Linked DNA regions of Homo sapiens: region 1 is linked to region 2. The links come from fine-mapping of genetic effects on gene expression. A gene starts in region 2. The other region holds a variant in brackets. All regions are shown on one strand. Distances are between the middles of the regions. Region 1 overlaps ITGB1-DT (ITGB1 divergent transcript). Region 2 holds the start of ITGB1 (integrin subunit beta 1).

Region 1 (2,904 bases), 92 kb before region 2:
GGGCAACATGACAGGGAAAAGAAAGAGAGAGATAGGACTGACCCACCAACGAGAACAATTGTTCTTGTTCTCCTTCTTGTTAATGCATTATCCATTACAGGAAAGAAGACCATTTTTCAAGACAATGACTGTCTCAAATGATCATTTAAATTCCAAAAAGAACATTTGCAAGTTAATATCTGTTTCTCCCCACTTCCAATAGCCAAAGCAATCTTAGGCAAAAAGAACAAAGCCAGAGGAATAAGGATATAGTAACCAAAACAGCATGGTACTGATATGAAAGTAAGACACCTAGACCAATGAAACACAATAAAGAACCCAGAATTAGAGCCAAATACCTGGAAGCCACCAATCTTCAACAAAGCAGATGAAAACATACACTGGGGAAAGGACACCCTATACAATAAATGGTGCTGGGAAAATTGGATAACCACAGGTAGAACAATGAAACTGGATCTCTATCGCTCACCATATATAAAAATTAACTTGAGATGAATTAAAGACTTTAAGACCTGAAACCACAAAAATCCTAGAAGATAAAGTAGGGAAAACTCTTCTGGACATCGTCCTAAGCTAAAAATGTATGACCAAGATCCCGAAAGCAAATGCAACAAAAAGAAAATTAGTGGGACCTAATTAAATTAAGCTTCTGCACAGCAAAAGAAATAATCAGCAGAGTAAATAGACATCCCACAGAATGGGAGAAAATATTTACAAACTATACACGCAACAAAGGACTAATATTCAGAATCTACAAGCAACTCAAACAAATCAGCAAGATAAAAAAAATCCTATTAAAAAGTTGTCAAATGACATGAACAGACATTTCCCAAAAGACACACAAATGGCCAAAAAACATGAAAAGGTGTTCAACATCACTAATCATCAGGGAAATGCAAATTAAAGCCACAATGAGATACCACCTTAACCCAGCCAGAATGGCCATTATCAAAAAGTCAAAAAACAATAGATGTTGGTGCAGATGCAGGGAAAAGGAAACACTTAGACACTGTTGGGGTTGCTACAACTGTGTCCGGAATTGGTGGGTTCTTGGTCTCACTGACTTCAAGAATGAAGCTGCGGACTCTCGCGGTGAGTGTTACAGTTCTTAAGGTGGCGCGCCTGGAGTCTGTCTCTTCTGATGTTCAGATGTGTTTGGAGTTTTTCTTCTGGTGGGTTCGTGGTCTCGCTGGCTCAGGAGTGAAGCCGCGGACCTTCGCAGTGAGCGTTACAGCTCTTAAGGTAGCGCGTCTGGAGTTGTTCTTTCCTCCCTGTGGGCTCGTGGTCTCGCTGAGCTCAGGAGTGAAGCTGCAGATCTTCGCGGTGAGTGTTACAGCTCTTAAGGTGGTGCGTCTGGAGTTGCTCGTTTCTCCTGGTGGGCTCGTGGTCTCGCTGGCTTCAGGAGTGAAGCTGCAGACTTTCGTGGTGAGTGTTACAGCTCATAAAAGCAGCGTGGACCCAAAGATTGAGTAGTAGCAAGATTTATTGCAAAAAGCGAAACAACAAAGCTCCCACAGTGTGGAAGGGGACCCGAGCGAGTTGCCAATGCTGGCTCCCGCAGCCTGCTTTTATTTTATCTGGCCCCACCCACATCCTGCTGATTGGTAGAGCCCAGTGGCCTGTTTTGTCCGGGCGCTGATTGGTGCGTTTACAATCCCTGAGCTAGATACAAAGGTTCTCCACGTCCC[T/C]ATCGGATTAGTTAGATACAGAGTTTCCACACACAGGTTTTCCAAGGCCCCACCAGAGCAGCTAGATACAGAGTGTTGATTGGTGCACTAACAAACCTTGAGCTAAACACAGGGTGCTGATTGGTGTGTTTACAAACCTTGAGCTACATACAGAGTGCCGACTGGTGTATTTACAATCCTTGAGCTAGACATAAAGGTTCTCCACGTCCTCACCAGAGCAGCTAGATACAGAGTGTCAATTGGTGCACTCACAAACCTTGAGCTAAACACAGGGTGCTGATTGGTGTATTTACAATCCCTGAGCTAGATATAACGACTCTCCACGTCCCCACCAGACTCAGGAGCCCAGCTGGCTTCACCTAGCGGATCCCGCACCGGGGCTGCAGGTGGAGCTGCCTGCCAGTCCTGCGCCCTGTGCTCGCATTCCTCAGCCCTTGGGTGGTCGATGGGACTGGGCGCCCTGGAGCAGGTGGTGGCGCTCGTCGGGGAGGCTCGGGCCGCACAGGAGCCCACGGAGGGGGTGGGAGGCTCAGGCATGGTGGGCTGCAGGTCCCGAGCCCTGCCCCGCGGGAAGGCAGCCAAGGCCCGGCGAGAAATCGAGCGCAGCGCCGGTGGGCCGGCACTGCTGGGGGACCCAGTACACCCTCCGCAGCCACTGGCCCGGGTGCTAAGTCCCCCATTGCCCGGGGCCAGCAGGGCTGGCTGGCTGCTCCGAGTGCGGGGCCCACCAAGCCCACGCCCACCCGGAACTCCAGCTGGCCCGCAAGTGCCGCACACAGCTCCGGTTCCCGCTCTTGTCTCTCCCGCCACACCTCCCTGCAAGCTGAGGGAGTGGGCTCCGGCCTTGGCCAGCCCAGAAAGGGGCTCCCACAGTGCAGTGGGGGACTGAAGGGCTCCTCAAATGCCACCAAAATGGGAGCCCAGGCAGGGGAGGTGCTGAGAGCAAGCGAGGGCTCTGAGGACTGCCAGCACGCTGTCACCTCTCACAACCTTTATGGAAAACAGTTTGGAAATTTCTCAAAGAACTCAAAATAGATCTACCATTCGATCCAGCAATCCACTACTGGGTATCTACCCAAAAGAAAATTAGTCATGATACAAGAAAGACACCTGAATGCATGTTCATCACAGCACAATTCACAATTGCAAAGATATGGAGTCAACCTAAGTGCCCGTCAACTGATAAGTGGATAAAGAGTATGTGTGAGAGACAGAG
Region 2 (2,904 bases):
TTATGCTTTTGAACTATACAGTTTTCTGTGCTGAGACTGGGCCAATTCTGATGAATTCTGAACAATGGTAAAACCGATACCTTTAAAATTCAAGAATGTTGAGTTCTAATGGCAGTTTGACCATTGAGATATTAATATAGGAACATCATTTAGCCTCTTAAGCTTGAACATCCATTAAGTGGGAAAAATAGTGCTCATTTCCTAGAGGTCTTCAGATTGGCTAATCAAGTTTTGATTTTGCTGGTAAGTAATGAGCAAATTTTCTTAGATGTGATCGCTTCATTTTCTCTTATATTGATTGGCAGCAGCCAAATGGGCATTCCAGTCCCTAATCTCCTGCAAGAGAAACACTTCTATTTCATAAATCTGGTAATTTTTGAGCTCTTTTCCCAACAGGGTGCTGCAGCTCACCAAGCGGAACCCACAGCATTTTCTGCTACCAGGATAGCAGCTTGCCAGTAGCATATACTAAATTACTGGGTTTCAGTATGATTTTGGCTGGTACAGACTTCAATCATCGAATCGACATGCGTTCAGCCATTCTCATAATGAATGTTTCCTTCTCTTTCAAACGTTGTTTCCAGCCCCAATCTCCAAATTTTTTTTTTTTAAGAGGTGAAACAGAAACTGTACTCCTTAGGAAGAAACTTTTCCTTCTCATCCCTGTTCCCCATAAAGGTACCTCCAGATAAATCTATCAAAAGCAGGACGCAACTCACCAGGTTTTCTAAAACGTTCCCCAGTCTCACCACCCTTCGTGACACCCATGGGTTTCCCAATTCTTCACCTTTCTCTTAGACACAGGCAAGCACATTATCACTCCAGAAAAGCAGTCCTGGCTTAGCCAGTTCCCTTCCAGAAGGACCACGTGGTTTTTGGCCCCATGGAGCCCTGCAGGGTAGGGGGGCTCACGGTCCCGATTTGCCTCGGGACTCAGGGGGCTTCCGAGATGCAGGATCTCCCGGGCTCGAAACGGGACATCAGTGGACAAACGGGAGCGAGGGTCGAACGCGCGGCTCCGAGGAAGAGGAACTTAAAGAACACGGGCCCAGCAGGCTACACCAGGAACGCGCGGGGCTCTAGGGCGCGTCCGACTCCTCCCGCCCTTCGCAGAGGAGGAAACTGAGGCACGGCGACTGTCTCAACGCAGTCCCGGCCCTGCCCCCCGCGGCCTCCCTCAGGCGCGCTCCCGCGCAGCCGGTTCCTTTGTCCCGGTCGCACTTCCTGCCCCATCCTCCGCCTCCTCCTAGCCCCGGGCCGGGCTGACGCGGCGGGAGAGGAATGCGTTTCCGGAGGGAGAGGGCGGCGGCGGCCTCGGGAGCGGGATCAGACGCGCAGAGGAGGCGGGGCCGCGGCTGGTTTCCTGCCGGGGGGCGGCTCTGGGCCGCCGAGTCCCCTCCTCCCGCCCCTGAGGAGGAGGAGCCGCCGCCACCCGCCGCGCCCGACACCCGGGAGGCCCCGCCAGCCCGCGGGAGAGGCCCAGCGGGAGTCGCGGAACAGCAGGCCCGAGCCCACCGCGCCGGGCCCCGGACGCCGCGCGGAAAAGGTAGGGGCCGGCGGGCCTCGGGTGTGGGAGCGCGGGCCGCGGCCTCCGGTCTCCTGTGCGCGGCAGCACTTAAAGCCGCCGGCCGGGCCGCGCCGGGACCTTTGTGCCGGGCGTGGGGGTGGGGGCGGGGGCGGGGGCGGGGGCGGCCGCCAGCGGTTGGGGGCTGGGGCAGGATTCCAGGCTAGTCCAGGAGGAAGTCCGCACGCCGCCACCCGCCTCGGGTCCCCGGCGCTGGCAGCCCCCGGGCGCAGAGCCAGCCCAGCCGCGTTCCGAACGTGAGGGTCGCCGGCCTGGGCGCTGTCACGTCGGGGCTGCCGGAGCTGCGGGGGACCGGGCCCGAACGGCCCCTGACACCTGCGGTCTCCCGCCGGGCTGGGCAAGCGCAGGTGGGAGCCAGCGAGGCCACCCGGGGCTCGGCGTTTGGGACTCGGCGCTCCCCTGGACGGGTCCGGTGCCTTTGTCTCTCGCTCCCTCGCGAGCTGCTGTCCTTGGAGCAGCGTCGAGCCAGCCGTCGGCGCCCGCGACGGGGACTGGTCTCCTCCGGCTGCCAGGAGGCGGCCCTGGGGCCAGCGCCGCGGGCGGGGGCGGCGGGAGCCGGGTAGAAGTTGGCTTAGTGGAGCCGCTGGGGACCGGGGGTGCGGTGGCGGCAGTGCAGTCCACTTCCCCGTGTTTATAAACGTCAAGAGTCGCCGGTCCCTGCCGGGCACCCCGGGACCAGGACGCATGGCCATGGCCAGCTTGTGCTCAGACCCGGTCCGCGAGCCTGAGAGCCCGGCCTGTGTCTAGTATCATTTTACCGCGTGTCATTTCTTAGGCTTCATAAATTGGATTTATGAGACTCCTACTCTCTAAGTAACTTTTATTTAATCAAATTCGTGCTTTTGAGTCCAAAACTTTGCACTCATTGGTATGATCATTAGTAAGTTGCATTCTCTAAGCTTCCGTTTCCTCATCTGTGAAATAGGAACAGTAATATCTACATTAATAATTCATTTTTATAATAATGACAGTGAGGGCCAAGTTTAGCTCTAGGCATTTTACATGTATTATTTAATTCTGGAACCGCTCTAATGAGATTGGTACTGTTTCGATTCCCATTTTCCGAGTGAAGAAACTGAGGCACAGGGAGCAAAAGTAAGTTGCCTGTGGTCATCAGGAGCTCCTGGAGAAGGCATGGGGTCTAGTTCCAGAGTCCGCGTTTAAACCACAAGTAACCTTCCTAACTATAGTTCTGAAAATCAAATGCAAAATGTAAAAAACTTAGCTTGAGAGTAGATGCTCAATGAGTATTGACTCCTTTTCAGCCCTTCTTTTATAGTAAAAAGATGTTAAAAATATCTCGGAAGATAATTGGTAAC

What was found. PIP is the estimated chance that this variant, and not a neighbour inherited with it, causes the effect. A credible set is the group of variants that fine-mapping cannot tell apart.
Region 1: its variant is the best candidate, but not a certain one, in a credible set for the expression of ITGB1 in whole blood (TOPMed, PIP 0.52).

What each region holds. Positions count from the first base shown.
Region 1 is chr10:33,048,813-33,051,716 of GRCh38, reverse strand. The region is part of intron 2 of ITGB1-DT (ITGB1 divergent transcript); the gene reads right to left. Among named protein-coding and RNA genes, the nearest start is that of IATPR, 67 kb to the left of the region's middle. RefSeq lists an enhancer at 1,872-2,372. The variant T/C (reference allele first, on the strand shown) is at 1,689.
Region 2 is chr10:32,956,787-32,959,690 of GRCh38, reverse strand. ITGB1 (integrin subunit beta 1) reads left to right here and starts at 1,461. Exons shown (of 16, transcript NM_002211.4): 1 at 1,461-1,546. RefSeq lists an enhancer at 889-938 and silencers at 1,109-1,688, 1,759-2,208, 2,602-2,763.